Homo sapiens: one gene and its partners. The protein of the gene in region 2 purifies or fractionates together with the protein of the main gene of each other region. This does not show direct contact. Each region holds a gene or a part of one and is shown on either strand. Other genes may lie near its edges.

Region 1 (4,236 bases), on a different chromosome or scaffold from region 2:
GCTGTTCTGTGTCACTCCTGATAATTTTTAAATTGACTATGTTCTTTTAACCATGTTTTAAAAAGTTGAACTACCCCAATGTGAACACTTTCCATTTTTGCTATATAATGAGAGTACTTTCATTCCTTTAATGTTTGCTTTTTCCTTTGATCTAACAATTTCTCTTCAAATTTCACAGTTTTCTGTTGCTTTAGGATTGAAAGAACCGATTAGCCCGCTGGGAGCGTGAAACAGACTTAAAAAAAATCTGCATGGTATTTCCTCCCAGTGAAATTAATTTAGGTTTAAATACAGGGGGAAGGGACACACCTTGTGCTCGAGTCTCTTTCTCTCACACACCTGAGCAGTTCCTATCCTGAAAGGGCACAGTCGGACCTGCTGCCAAGTCTTAAGTCTTTTGTGAGAATCTTTTTTTGCAAGGCACGGAGAACCTCTTTCTCTTTGACACCAGCTTTGTGTGGGCCTGATGACACGTTTGGACGGCTCTATTTCTTTGAAGGCCAACCTCAGAGGCCCACGGACGCGTCGGGCACTGTCCGTGGCTGGGTTACTTAAGTGTAGCTGGGTTGGCTTCCCGGGTGTTTTAGGAAACGCACCTTCTTGCAGGGCAGGGACCGTCAGCTCCAGAGCAACAAAGGACAATTTGGAGAGGAGTGGAAGGAGCGCTCCATAGTGGCTCTGTCATCCCAGGTTCCCTTCTGCCTAGCACCGTGGCCCTAGTGATCCCGCCTTCGCCCTCTGGATCCCCCACCCCCACTGTCTCGCTGCTCGAGAGCCCGGCGGGGCGCGGTGAGCCCCACCACCTTCCCCCACACCCTCCCTCCCCATCCCCTTCAAATCCTAGGAGCAGCGCTGCGCGCAGCAGCCGCGCTCGCCCCGCGCCCGGCCCCGGCCTCCCCAGCACCCCGGGGACCCGGTCCCCCGTCCCGCCTCCCCCTGTCCAGCAGTCCGCAGCCTCCCCCTCCAGCCCCAGTGGCGGGAGCTGTCAAGCCCGCAGCAGCCGAACCACCCCCCGAGCGACCGCGTCTCCTCTTCTTCCTTTGTGTGTGCGCGAGCGGAGTTGGGGCGGAGGGAGAAGGGGGAGGTCGCTCTGTCTGTCCGTCTCCCGCCGCCTCTGCCCGGTCTACTCGAAGTGCGGCGGGAGAGGCGGGAGCCCAGGAGAGGGTGCGGGAGCTGGCGGGGCGGCTCGGAGCTGCCAGGACGCCCTGGTCCCAGCCGCGCACAGGGGAGCGTGGACGGCAGAGGGGCTCGGCGGGAGCCGAGATCCGCCCGTCCCGGCTGCCCCTCGGCCTCCCTCTGCTCCCACCTACCCCCTGACACCCATAGAAAAGCGTGCAAAGGCGCGGAGCGGGACGGAAACCACAAATAAATAGCGGCGGCGGCAGCGCGTCATCTGGTGGAGCAGGAAGTGCAGGCAGAGTCCGGAGGCTGGTGCTTTCTGCGCGTCCCCAGGACTTTGCCATGGGCTGGGGGCCGCGGAGGCTGCGAGCGGCCGGGCGAGGGCAGCGGCGGCGGCGTCCGCACCGGGGCTGAGCGAGCAGCGACGCGAGGGGCGCGCGGAGATGGCAGCGTCCAGCAACTCCAGCCTGTCCGGCTCGTCGGTGTCCTCCGGTGAGTTTCAGCCCGTCGGGCGCTGCTGCCGCGCCGGGTCTCGCCCCACTGCCCTCGCCCCGCAGCCTGGGATGGACAGAGCCTACCTGTGGCCATCCCGCCCGCTCTCTCGGAATGGGGGCAGGCGTCCGGGGTGATACTTGTTTGGTTCGCCAGCACCTCGGTGCCCAGAGCACCTCCGCGCCTGACATCTGACAGCGCAGAGGTGGGAGAGCGGTGGTGCCCTTAGTGTGCGGACGCGGGTGTTCCGGGGCTTGGAGTGCAGCGAGCGAAAAGCGAAAGGAGCGGGCAGGCTCGCACTTTCTGGCGCAGCTGGAGCGGGGGCTGGCGGGGCGGAGAAGGTTGGGGTGAAGCAGAGCGCCCCGACCTGTTTGCCGTGCCGCGCCCGCTACCCTGGACACCCAAATCCGGAGCAGAGGGGAGCAAACCCTCGCTCCTCGCAGACTTGATTTTCTTTGTTTGTTTCAGAAATTAGCTCTATGGAGACACTCGCTTGGGCATGGGTTTTAGACAGCAGCAATGAAGGGATGTATCTTTCTGATCCTGATTGAAGTGGGTTAGGGGAAGAGAGGTCGAGCCCATCCTCTGACTCTTGGCACATTTACGAGAGAGAGAGAGAGAGAGAGAGAGAGAGAGAGAGTGTGTGTGTGTGTGTGTGTGAGAGAGAGAGAGAGAGAGACTCCTTAGAGATTTTCTGATAATAGTGGCTGTAATTTCACTAGCAAGGCATGCATTTTTTTTCCTTTTAAGAATGGTTGAGCAAAGGGAAGGCTTCTTTCAGCTTTTCTATGGTTGATCATCGGGTCTAATTGAAGAGAAAAAAATTGCTAATGAATCTGAAGGAGTAGGAATCAATAGAGGCAGACCCACTGGTTTCTGAGTATGACAGGTTTCTAATCAGAATGATGCATTAGGTAGAATTCCTGTACCTCTCTGGTCATTGAAAACTTTAATGACAAACCCAAAGGGATAGCTGATAAGACATTTAGGGTAGTATACAGTATTTAAGGGTCAAGAAGGTCATGAAGTCCTAATGGAAGTGCTTCAATATATTAATATTGTATTAAGTCCCATTGGGCTGTTTTTATTATTATTCGCGAATTAAACTCAAAGGAAGAAACACCTTTTTGGAGGCATTGGATAGCAAGCAGGGCAAAAAGGCAACCACAGCTTTAGATGTGTAACTCACTAAATCATAAATGCAAGGTGAATTTGACTAAGGTGCAATTGTGATGTGGCACAAGGTGATCACTTGAAAGCCATCTGTTATCTTTCTTGGCAGATTTACTTCCTGGGAAATGGCACTTCCTTTCTCGATCACTGCCAACTAATTGAAAACACGTTGTTGTTAGGTGTGTGATATAGTTCAAGTTTCTAGTAGTGGCAGCCAATGGGGCAGAAGTCATATCTTATTAAGAGCAGCAACAAGTTGACCGCCGTGGTTTTAATTCTGAGAACTCAGCAAATGCTACAGTTTATTTTTAGTACCCTCAAACCACTGCTGCTGTTTTTCAATTCATTTTGGTTGACTAACATTGAATTTAAAATACAGTGGTGTTGGCTTTCTATTAGCATATGGTTATCCCTCTCAGAAAACTGCCCACTAGAAAATGAACTGGTGGGGCAAAAGAAAAGACGAAAGGAGAAAGGACAAGGAGCTGGTGGTGTCACATGATTTACTGGTGGCATGAATTACAGCTGCTGTGGCATCTGAATTTCCAGATCTTGATGTAGCTTAAGAAACCTGATTGAAAATCCTAAGTCAGCCTTCGGAAGAATACGTTGGTTTGAAACAACACAGTATGAGATTTAGATGATGGTAATTGCTTTCAGATAGGTTAGAGATGCCCATGATAGTTCTTTTTCCTGCTTTATTTACCCCTATTTTTAATCCTAAGGGAAAATGGGAAATTATGTGAAAACTGAAATTCAAAAAGTGGGCATGGATGTATTGTTTGGCATGAATCAGCCTAGCCCATGAGTTTATACTGCCTAATTCCCCAATTAATCAGGCACTTTGTCTTGAAAAATACAGCATTGTAGTTCTCTTTTAAAGCACACTTACCATTGTGTGGATCATGAATAATTCAGATGACACAAGCAATTCACACCTGTGAGAGGTGTTGGGCAGAAAGAATAGAGTCTATTTGTGGTGGCAGCTGGGCTCTCTCAGGGGAAGGCCAGAATCTGAGAAATTAGGGCACTCCGTCAATGTATTAATCACTATTTTCAAGGGCCTACTATGTGCCAGGCAGTAAGTTATAAACCTCAGCTTCAAGAAGGCTAAGGGGGAAAGATAATTGTAGGATTCCCTCTAGCTCTGAAGTTCTGGGAGTATTGTCTTTTAATTCTGGCTTCATCACCGACCAGCTGGGTATCTTGGAGTGAGTTACTTAACTTCTCCAAGCCTCAATTTCCTCTTTTGTAAATGAGGCTGATACTGATGATAAGACCTACTTGGTAGAGTGTCTTGGGGATTGAATGAAATAATGTGTGTGGAGTATTTAGCACAGGGCCTAGCATTTAATAAATGCTTAATGTGAATAAATTTTACTTCTTTGAGGAATGAAAAAGAAGGCATTCACGGGCTCAGAATTTAGGTGGAGACATGAATCCAACACACAA
Region 2 (3,565 bases):
TACAAAAATGTATAGCAGGGTGGGATAAAATAAAGAAACAGACTATACAACATGCATACTGTGAAGTCCTCTTCACTTCCAGGTACCATCATATGGAACCCTTATCCTCCCACCACAAAATGTATAATTCTGCTTATATCTGTACCTGTGATCTCTCTTCTTTCAAAAACGTAGACCTTTCTTCTTATGAAAAAAACAATCCCCCCACATATATTCTGGATGGCATCCTCCTTCACTTTGTCTGGGACTTTGGCTCTGCCCACTGTCCTCATCATCCTTGTATCCAGGACCACAGCCTTTGTCATGCAGACATATTCAGCTTCCTCCCATCTCCCCAACCTCCAGCAAAAGAAAACCCTTCATTTTCACATTCCCCTTCAGCTACTGCTCCATTTCTTTGTTTGCCATTTCAACATTTTTCAAAAGGATCACCCACTGAAAATAAAGATATTTCCACATTGTCACCTCCTGTTTATATTCAGCTTACTTCAATCTGGTTTTCAGTGCCCAAACAAACCACTGAGATTGTGGCCATGCTCAGCCGTTACCTGTGTTGGCAAATCCAATGGACACTTTAGTTATCTTACAAGACCCCAGCTGCCTTGACCTAATTGACGTCCTCCCTGAAGTGCTTTCCTTTGCTTTCATGTGCCCACGGCAGACCACTTCTCAGTCTCAGTCCTCTTTGTCCGATCCTCATCCTATCCAACTTCCAGGCGCAGGAGCTCCTTAAAGCTTGACACTGCGCTTTCCTTTCTCTTTCCATATACCCAATGACATTATCTATTGTCTTGTTTTTAAACACTATCCATACGCCCTCCCAAGTTTAGCAGCTGCTGAGACTTTTCTCTTGAACTCCATGTTCATATATTCAGCTATTCACTTAATATGTACTCTTGGGTTTCTCACAGACATCTTGAACTTAAAAATAAATTTTATCCTACCAGAATCTTATCTTTGCTTCAGAATCGTATCTCCCTCACTCTTGCCCATTTCAGGAAATGGAGCCACCAACACACAGCTATTTGAGGCAGAACCAGGGATCATTTCTGATACCTGCTTCTCCTTGGTCCCCCACCTTTGTCTAATCACCAAGTACTAGTTGTTCTGCCCCCAGAGCATCTCTCATTTATTCACCTCTTCTTCACCAAATTGGCAGCATTGTATGAAACTTAAGAACCCAGGCTTCCTTCCTCCATTGAGAAGATGAGCCGATGGAGTATTTGCAGGCAGGATATTCCTTGCAAAAATTCATTTTGGTGCTCCGTGAGTGTTCACCATAAAATTGGTTTAAAACTTTTGAAACAAATGTAAATCGTCATTGAAATAAATCATTGGCCCTTCGCATTGGCTCACGCCTGTAATCCCAGCACTTTGGGAGTCCAAGGTGGGCAGGTCACAAGGTCAGGATTTCAAGACCAGTCTGGGCAACATAGTGAAACCCTGTCTCTACTAAAAATACAAAAATTAGCCAGGTGTGGTGGTGTGCACCTGTAATCCCAGCTACTCGGGAGGCTGAGGCAGGAGAATCATGTGAACCCAGGAGGTGGAGGTTGCAGTGAGCTGAGATCATGCCATTGCACTCTAGCCCAGGCGACAGTGCAAGACTCCATCTCAAAAATGAAAAAAAAAAAAAAAAAAAAAATCATGAAAGCATCCATAGACTGTCCCACTGGAAGCAATGCAACTCCCCAGTGTACTCTCCAAAATGAAGTAAATGTTCAAAGTACATAAAAGAAACCAAGTTAAGTATAAAATAGTTAAAAGTTTTGAGACTTCTACTAAAAAACGATAGTTGTTTTTGAATATAGATTCCTGGTCCTTTATTCAAAACCCTTGGGGCAAGGTGCATTTTGGAATTCAGATTTATGTTTTGTTCTTTAGAGTAAGATGCATAAACTATATATTATATAACACTTCCTGTGGGATCTGTGGTGCTGCCCTATTCATACTGATATTTCTACAACACGATGTATGAATATTCACACTAAAGGGATAAAAGTGATAAATAACCTCATATCAGTTCAGGTCAGATTTTGCTGTCAGATGAGTTCAGGTCAGATTAGATTTTGCCACCAAAAGTGTTATTGAAAAAACTTTTAATTTTCAGAGCTATAGATTTCTGGTTAAGGTATTGTAGACCTGTAAGATGGTTGTAGCTCATCTTTCTAACAGTTGGGACATCTAGACTAGATTGTTGTTGTTGTTGTTGTTGTTAAGGGCACTTCCAGATCATGGTATTAAAATGATATCCTTGGCTCGTACAGGACAACTTATTTCTCTGTTAGATGTAACAGAAGGATGTGTATCCAGTGGAGTCTAAAAGTGGCATCAGTTTATTAAGAAGCAAGGTTTGCTCTTTGTTTAAAGGGCCCCCTGGGGTTTTGTTACTTTACATATCACTGTGAAGGAGATAATAATTTGAAGGATAGAGTGGTATGCTTTAAAGTGAATCTAGCTGTGTCCTGCGGTTCAGAAGACTGAAGTCTGGTTTGCTCATTTTACGGAGATGCCATTTATCTGTGGAGAGGCCATGCAAGGTAAGAGAGGGTCCCACAGTAAATGCTGTTTATGCAACATCACATGGCTTCTTTATCAGAGCTGGTTAACAGGTCTATGCAGGAAAGTTACTGTAACAGAAGAAAAGCAGCAGAGTACAAGGATCTTGCCCTCTTAAGGAATGATAAAGACCTTAAAGCTTCTCTGGAAGAAATATCCCCAGAGGAAGTTTTATGATTAGGCAATTTTATAAAAACTTAAAATGTTAAAGCAATGAAATAACATACAGAAATTTGAATGCTATTTGACTGGTTGAGGTGAGTCTTAATAGATTTCCTGGAGAGACAATCATAAAAATATTAGAAAGACAAAAGTTTTTCATTTACTTTCTTTTCCTGGATGGATACGTAATTGAGAAAGAATGTTAGATTAAATAGAGTTGGTAAATACCACCCTTACTTAAGTATATGAGGATAAAACTTTAATAACATAAGATCCCCACATTTAGTTGCAATATTCCTTTTTAGTTATGTTTCCTCAGCAATCAGTTTTCTTCATTGCCCTATTGGAGTTTCAGGCAGACGTATCTTGTTGGAAGATGTCAAACATATTAAACACCATTAAAACAAAATGAGATAGGGGCCGGGCGCGGTGGCTCAAGGTGGCTCATACCTGTAATCCCAGCACTTTGGGAGGCCGAGGCAGGTGGATCACCTGAGGTCAGGAGTTCGAGACCAGCCTGGCCAACATGGTGAAACCCCGTCTCTACTAAAAATACAAAAATTAGCTAGGCGTAATGGCGGGTGCCTGTAATCCCAGCTACTCGGGAGGCTGAGGCAGGAGAATTGCTTGAACCTGGGAGGCGGAGGTTGCAATGAACCGAGAGCGTGCCATTGCACTCCAGCCTGGGTGACAAGAGCAAAACTCCGTCTCAAAAAAAAAAAAAAAAAAAAATCTGTAAATACTGATGTAAAAAGATGTCTGTGAAATAATATATTAGTTTTCTACTGCAGCTGCAACAAATTGTTATGAACTTAGTGGCTTAAAATAACACAAATAAATATAT
Region 3 (3,565 bases), about 27 Mb from region 2:
AAATGTCTCTGGCATTTATTAGCATCCTTTGCCAACAAAATATCAGAATTTACATTAAACCTTTCTTCTACAAAAGCTGTTTGAGCTCTGCTTTTGCAGCTTTCTTGGAGGAACCTGTAGCTTAAAAGCTGGAAGGGGGTGACTGCAAGAAATGAAAAAGGAAAGCAAGGGTGGAGAAGGCCAGGTCATCCCATGCTACAGCTGGAAGTTCTTCCAAAGCCCCTGGAAACTCCCTGATGAACCCACCTGAAGTCTGTGTTCACTCACCCCCACCTTCCTTACTCCCTCCCCCTGCAGTTAAGACATTGCTGCCCTAGAATAAAAGGACAGGTGCTTGTCACAGAGCCTCCAGTAACCCAACATTATGGATGCTTCCTGGTCACGATGGAAACAGCACTGCCAAAGTTGAGCTCCCTGTGGTAATGAGGGGAGAAATCTTCCTCTGGCCAAGGATTCTGAGAACTCTGTTCCCAGAGCAGCTTCAAAAAGCTACATGTCTCAGTGTGTAACCTTGAGATCAACTCAAAGCCCAGGGTTCTTGGTCCCAAGCAACTTGAAATCTCTGGAAGAGAAGCCTGGGAAGGAGAACTTGTTAGTATTTCCTCAGCTCTGCCACTGAGCTGCCCCTTTTGCTAAGTTTTAATCTTCTTGTATTCAAGTTTCTCTGTGTAAAATTAACTAGACATACTGTAGAAGAGCTTTTAATTAGATCTTTATGGGCTTAGAGTCTTTATTTCCTTCTCGGACAATGTTCACATTTTCCAGATCCTTCCAGGCCCTCCTCTAATGCCATCTGCTCTTCCCTGGACCTCTCAGCTGCAGACCATCTTTCTCCTCTGATTCCCATCACCTCTACTTGGACATCTTTACTGCCTCCTTCCTTCATGCTGGAAGGTTGTAATTACGTTTTGTCTTCCTACTTCACCGGAATCCCTTTTAAAGGGAGGAGTTCTTGCTCATGTTCCTTTTCCCACAGTACCTGTGATAGTCCCTTACTTACGTAATAGGTATAATAAATATTTGTTGAATAAGTCAACTTATAATTTTATATTGAGAACGGTAGGATGTTAGAGTTTGCACATATTCTAAGGGGTCATGCAGCTAGACTGTCTTCTATAAAACATTCTTTTTGAAATATTTAGTTGCTGCAAGGCTCACTCACTGCTTCCAGAGGCAGCCAGTCCACTGGTGGACAGATGTAACAGTTATGAAGCCCTTCTGTGTACAATAGAAATCTGCCTGTTTTTATTTCATAACTCTCTCCCATTGGCAGTGTTCTTGACATCACCCTTATTCCATGTGTATTTTGTATATTTGACAACTGATGATGGTCATTCATCTCTGAATACATTCCATTTTGTCTATTTCTCTCTTAAATTATGCTTCTTATAGCTAAAGAGTTGTGTTCTATAAAAAATGGTAATGGGTAATACTTTTGTAAGTGGAAGAAAAGGAGAAATGAGTTCTGGAGAAGAATGTCTGCCAATTTGATCTCAGTATATTCAGTGCATTTTGTCATTTGTTTCCAAATGTATATCTCCAGCCTGGAGATGTAAATGTCCTCTACCTGAACACCAGATTAATCCACAGTCAGCATGTTCATTTGAATGCCTGACAGGCATCTCAAATGGAACTTTTCTCCACCAAACCTCCTCCACCCACAGTCTTTCCAATCTCAGTTAATAGAGGCCTCGTCCTCGCTGCTGCTGAAGCCAAAAACCTGGATCATTCATGATTCTTCTGTTTCTCATGCATCCTTCATCAGGAATCCAATGAACTCAACCTTCAAAATATACCCAGAATCCAACAAATTCTTATTACCTTCATTGCTACCCCCTGGTCCAAGCTACTGTCATTCTTCACCTGGATGTTTTTAATAATTACTGGAATGGTCTCTCTGCTTTTATTCTTTGCCTTCCACAGTCTGTTTTCCACTAGGCAGCCAGAGTACAGATAACTGAAAAATACATGTCACATCATGACCTTTCCTTGTTGATAACCTTCCCATTTCTCTTAGTAAACACTAAATCCTTAAAATAGCCTACATCCCTTGACATGATTGAGTGCCCTGTTGCCCTTCTGACCACACCTGCTAATATCCCCCTCTTCACTCACTCTACTGCAGCCACAATTGGCTCCCCACTTTTCCTCAAACATTATAGGCGTACTCTCCCCTCAGGATCTCTGCATGGCTCCTCCTCCACCAGCACTGTCTTTCTCCAGATCTCCACATGGCTCATTCCCATTGAGGTCTATCCTGACCACCCCACTTAAAATTGCAACGCCCCCAACACTTCCAATGCTTATGCTGCTGTTTTTCCCATTGCACTTGCCTCATTCTAATAGAGTGTAACTATAATATATCATATTCATGGTTTATTGTCAGTCACCCTCAGTAGCAAGTAAGCTCCCCATGTGCAGGAGATGTTTTTTGCTCACCCGACAACACTATCTCACAGTTCTCCCTACAGAGATTAACTGTGGAAATTAAAAGGAAACTGGGTTCTTTTTTTAATTTCCAGATTTGTGTAGCTTCAAATTAATTTATCCTGTAGTAAAAACTAGAGCTGCGTGCAGTGGTTTACACCTGTAATCCCAGCACTTTGAGAAGCTGAGGCAGGAGGATCGCTTGAGCCCAGGAGTTTGAGACCAGCCTGGGCAACATAGTGAGACCTTGTCTCCATAAAAAATTAACATTTAGCTGGACATGGTGGTACACACCCACAGTCCCAGCTACTTGGAAGGCTGAGGCAGGAGGATCACCTGAGCCCAGGAAGTCGAGGCTGCAGTGAGCCATCATCATGCCCCTGCACTTCAGCCTGGGTGACAGAGCTGTCTCAAAGAACAAAAACCCTAACTAGTGGTTTTTATAGTAAGTGGAGTATTCGTCTTTTATTCTAGAAATTCAATGATTAAATTTCAGTATCTGAGCTGGCACTACTGTTATAAATTGGCACTTTTTAAAGGCCCCAAAGTTCAGAGACCATACATTTTTTATCATGGCAAAAAGCAAATACATTCTTCATTCAAAGAAATGAGCCAGGAACTGTGAAGAAATTTGGGGTAGAGATTGTAAAATGGTCAAAATTTGTTTGAATTAAAAAGCTTCAGTCATTGTTCAGTTTCTGAAATTTATCAAATCTGCTTTACCAGTGCTAGGAAATTTTTACATTCATCTCACGCCAATTTTTACCTGACTTCAATTCATTACTATTGAGTTGGTTTGTTTTATAAGTTAGAAACACTAGGATTTTTTATCTTGTGCATTCTGGTCAGATGTAGTCTTCCTAGCATTTCAAGGCCACCACCCTGATTAGGACTCAGCAGCATGGAGTCTCATTGAAATTACCTTGAAACCCACCTTTTTTTAATTCCCCCCCAAGATGGATTCTTGCTCTGTCACCCAGGCTTAGAGCACAGTGATGCAATCCTGGCTCACTGCAACCTCCACCTCCTGGGTTCAAGTAATTCTCCTGCCTCAGCTTCCCAAGTAGCTGGGATTACAGGCACCCGCCACCACACCTGGCTAATTTTTGTATTTTTAGTAGAGACGGGGTTTCACCAT
Region 4 (4,187 bases), on a different chromosome or scaffold from region 2:
TTTTTTTTTTTTTTTGCGACAGTCTCCCTCTGTCGCCTAGGCTGGAGTGCAGTGGCGCTATCTCGACTCACTGCAAGCTCCGCCTCCCGGGTTCACGTCATTCTCCTGCCTCAGCCTCCTGAGTAGCTGGGACTACAGGTGCCCGCCACCACGCTCCACTAATTTTTTGTGTTTTTAGTAGAGACAGGGTTTCATCGTGTTAGCCAGGATGGTCTTGATCTCCTGACCTCGTGATCCACCCGCCTCGGCCTCCCACAGTGCTGGGATTACAGTCGTGAGCCACTGCGCCCAACTTCTTTCTTTCTTTCTTTCTTTTGAGACGGAGTCTTGCGCTGTTGCCAGGCAACAGTGCAGTGGCGCGATCTCGGCTCACTGCAACCTGTGCTTCCCGGGTTCAAGCAATTCTCTGCCTCAGCCTCCTGAGTAGCTGGGATTACAGGCATGCGCCACCACGCCTGGCTACTTTTTGTATTTTTAGTAGCGATGGGGTTTCACTATCTTGGCCAGGCTGGTCTTGAACTCCTGACCTCGTGATCCACCCACCTCGGCCTCCCAAAGTGCTAGGATTACAAGCATGAGCCACTGCGCCCGGCCTTTTTCTTTCTTTCTTTTTTTCTGAGGTGGAGTCTTGCTCTATTGTCCAGGCTGGAGTGCAGTGGCACAGTGTCGGCTCACTGCAACCTCTGCCTCTGCCTCCCGGGTTTAAGTGATTCTCCTGCCTCAGCCTCCCGAGTAGCTGGGATTACAGGCACCTGCCACCAAGCCCGGGTAATTTTTGTATTTTTGGTAGAGATGGGGTTTCACCATGTTGGCCAGGCTGGTCTAGAACTCCTGACCTCAGGTGGTCCACTCGCCGCGGCCTACCAAAGTGCTGGGATTACAGGCGTGAGCCACCGCGCCCCGCCAACCAGCTGGAGATGGCTTAAACTTACTCCCGAAGAAGCTCCCTTCCATTTCTCTCACACTAACGGACAATAAGGAGGCCTCGAGCTAGGCAGGCCAGGGCCGTACCCGAGCTGCTGGCAGGGAGCAAACCTCAGGAAAGTCAAGCCACCAAAAAACTGTAAGCCTCAATCAACTGAGAGGAAAGCACAAGAGGACCAGGTGTCACAGGGCAGAGGCCAAACCACAACTCCCAGCAGGTCACGCGGAGTAGGGCGGGTAAGCGCGCCTTCTTATTGGATGGCGATGGACAGCGTGCTCTTACGACCCACCCCAGAAGGCAAGTCCCCTGCGCGCGGGGCACGGCGGGAGTAAGAGTCTGCGGGACCGGCAGCTGTACTTCATCTCCCAGCGGGCCGAGCGCTGAAGGCAGCGGCGCGGCGCCTTTGTGGTAGCAGTGGCCCCGCGCGGAGGAAGTTCCGGTGTCCGCGGCGCTGGGTCGGTGGCGGAGGCTGAGGAGAAGGAGGAGCGGGCCGTGGAGGCTTCGCCGCCTAGGTAAGGGCCCGGGACTGGAGGGGAGGCGTGCCAGAGCCTGCCAGGGAATAGCCAGCAGACAGGCCCGCTCTAGACATCGCAGGCCCGCGCAGCCTGAAAGCTGTGGCTTCAGTGTCGCGGGGCGGCTGCGGCCTCGCTCGGGAAGAAGACCAAGCAACGGTGAGATGAGGGAGGCGCCGCCCGTGGCAGGAACGCCCCGGAACCGTCGCGGGCCTGGGGCGGGGCCCGGCGCGGCAGTAGATTACCGGTCCCGCCGCGGAGCGGCCAGCTGTGAGGCTGGGGCCGGCGCGTGGTTGCGGCTCTGTGCTCCTACTCTTCGGAGCTGTAAGCGGGCTGTTCTTGCGGTTTTCCTGTTTCAGATCCAATTCTGTGGCATCACTAGGAAGGGAGCTCTTGTGCTTAGCACGTAGCCTCGTCCTCAGACTTGGACAGACACAAGGGAGGCTCCGCTGGACCGGAGGGCACAAGAGCTCCGAGCCCGGTCGTCGGGGCGGTAGAACCTGGAAGCGGGAGAGTGGTCTGGTGGGTTCTGCGCCCGTTAGGCAATGAAGGAGAAGGATGTTTTATCGTATTCACGCTTTAGATTCCATTAGCGGTGTAAATAGATGTTTTTCTCTTTATTTTAGAATTGACGTTAGGCGAATGGGTTCAACTTTGGGAATGCCTTTTTTTTTTTTTTTTTTTTGAAGGAAGGGCCCTGTTTCGTAGGGTACATAAACCGTGAGCGTAATTGTATTTTTTGCATATTCCAGGTTTGCTTGTGAAGGTCAGAGTAGCCGGATTTAAGTGAAGGAGTTCAGTAGACATGCAGACATGGTCACCTGGTTCATTTTCTGAACCCTGGATTGTGCCCTCGGCTTGCTAGTTTCCACCTTCCTATTGAGAAATGCCACCAGCGTGAATGATTTAAATATGTCACCATTACTGAATTTGTGAGGTCTCTAACGAGAGGTGTCAAGAGCTGGTGCGTGATGGTAGGACTGGCAGTGAAGAAAGTAACTAAATAATATGTTACCATTTTGGTGAAACACAAAAGTTGAATTTGAACCTTGTCTCAGAAACTAGCATCTAACTAGATACCTAACCTGCAGGACAGGTCCCAGGTCTCTCTGGATAGTTGTAGCACCTTTCCTTATAGAATTCTATTACCAGGCCGAGCCTGGTGGCTCACACCTGTAATCCCAGCACTTTGGGAGGCTGAGGTGGGGAGTTCGAGACCAGCCTGACTAACATGGAGAAACCGCGTCTCTACTAAAAGTACAAAATTAGCCGGGCATGGTGGCACATGCCTGTAATCCCAGCTACTTGGGAGGCTGAGGCAGGAGAATCGCTTGAACCTGGGAGGCGGAGGTTGCGGTGAGCTGAGATTGCTCCATTGCACTCCAGCCTGGGCCACAAGAGTGAAACTCTGTCTCAAAAAAAAAAAAAAAAAAAAAAAAAAAAAACCCGCAAAACTCAACAAAAACCAACATAGTAGAGGCAGCGTTTCGCCTTATGCCCAGCTAATTTTTTGTATTTTTTTAGTAGAGGCGGAGTTTCGCTATGTTGGCCAGGCTGGTCTTGAACTACTGACCTCAGGTGATCCACCTGCCTTGGCCTCCCAAAGTGCTGGGATTACAGGCGTGAGCCACCGTGCCCGGCCCTGTTATAGTATTTCTAAAACAAATTGTGAGCCTGGGCAACATCGCAAAACCCTGTCTCTACAAAAAATACAAAAAAAAAAAATTAGCCAGGCGTGGTGGCATGCTCCTGTTAGCCCTAACTACTCAGGAGGCTGAGATGGAAAAATCGCTTGAGCCGGGGAGGTAGAGGTTGTAGTAAGGGGAGATAGTGCCACTGCACTCCAACCTGGGCCACAGAACAAGACTGTCTCAAAAAAAAAAAAATCAATTAAATAAATTGTGGTAAATATATATTTTTATGTATGTTTATGTATATTTTAACAAAATTTGCTCTTTAAACCATTGTTAAGTATACAATTCAGCCAGGCACGGTGGCTCACGCCTGTAATCCCAGCACTTTGGGACGCCGAGGTGGGCGGATCACGAGGTCAGGAGATCGAGACCATCCTGGCTAACACGGTGAAACCCCATCTCTACTAAAAATACAAAAAATGAGCCGTGCGTGGTGGTGGGCGCCTGTAGTCCCAGGTACTCAGGAGGCTGAGGCAGGAGAATGGTGTGAACCCGAGAGGCGGAGCTTGCAGTGAGCCGAGATTGCGCCACTGCACTCCAGCCTGGGCAACAGAGCGAGACTCCGAGACTCCATCTCAAAAAAAAAAAAAAAAAGTATACAATTCAATGGTATTAATTACATTCACAATGTAGTACAAGCAATACCACTATTTCTGAAACTTTAGTATCTCAAACAGAAACTCTGTAACCAGGGAGGGCATGGTGGCTCACGCCTGTAATCCCAGCACTTTGGGAGGTCAACGTGGGCAGATCACTTGAGTTCAGGAGTTCAAGAACAGCCTGGCCAACATGGTGAAACCCCGTATCTACTAAAAATACAAAAATTAGCCATGCATGGTGGCATGCATCTGTAACACCAGCTACTAAGGAGGCAGAGGTTGCAGTGAGCTGAGGTCATGCCATTGCACTTCAGCCTGGGCTGCACAGCCAGACTCCATCTCAAAAAAAAAGAAAAAAAGAAACTGTAACCATTAAACAAGTTAACTTCCCATTTCCTCCTCTTAATCTCTAATCTACTTTGTGTCTGTCTGTGAGTGTGCTTGTTCTAGGTACTGC

Evidence for each region.
Region 1: the proteins of ALS2 (region 2) and CHN2 purify together in Homo sapiens (affinity purification with mass spectrometry; one large-scale study listed by BioGRID and IntAct). This does not show direct contact.
Region 3: the proteins of ALS2 (region 2) and CHN1 purify together in Homo sapiens (affinity purification with mass spectrometry, with the first as the bait; one large-scale study listed by BioGRID). This does not show direct contact.
Region 4: the proteins of ALS2 (region 2) and RBM6 purify together in Homo sapiens (affinity purification with mass spectrometry; one large-scale study listed by BioGRID and IntAct). This does not show direct contact.

The regions. Positions count from the first base shown.
Region 1 is NC_000007.14:29,193,380-29,197,615, forward strand, and holds the start of CHN2 (beta-chimaerin), read left to right. Parts: upstream 1-1,395; 5' UTR 1,396-1,562; coding exon 1,563-1,611; intron 1,612-1,697; exon of another isoform or gene 1,698-2,072; intron 2,073-4,236.
Region 2 is NC_000002.12:201,770,931-201,774,495, reverse strand, and holds part of ALS2 (alsin), read left to right. Parts: intron 1-3,565. UniProt on the Homo sapiens protein: May act as a GTPase regulator. Controls survival and growth of spinal motoneurons.
Region 3 is NC_000002.12:174,802,854-174,806,418, reverse strand, and holds part of CHN1 (N-chimaerin), read left to right. Parts: intron 1-3,565. UniProt on the Homo sapiens protein: GTPase-activating protein for p21-rac and a phorbol ester receptor. Involved in the assembly of neuronal locomotor circuits as a direct effector of EPHA4 in axon guidance.
Region 4 is NC_000003.12:49,938,789-49,942,975, forward strand, and holds the start of RBM6 (RNA-binding protein 6), read left to right. Parts: upstream 1-1,361; 5' UTR 1,362-1,437; exon of another isoform or gene 1,438-1,596; intron 1,597-4,187. UniProt on the Homo sapiens protein: Specifically binds poly(G) RNA homopolymers in vitro.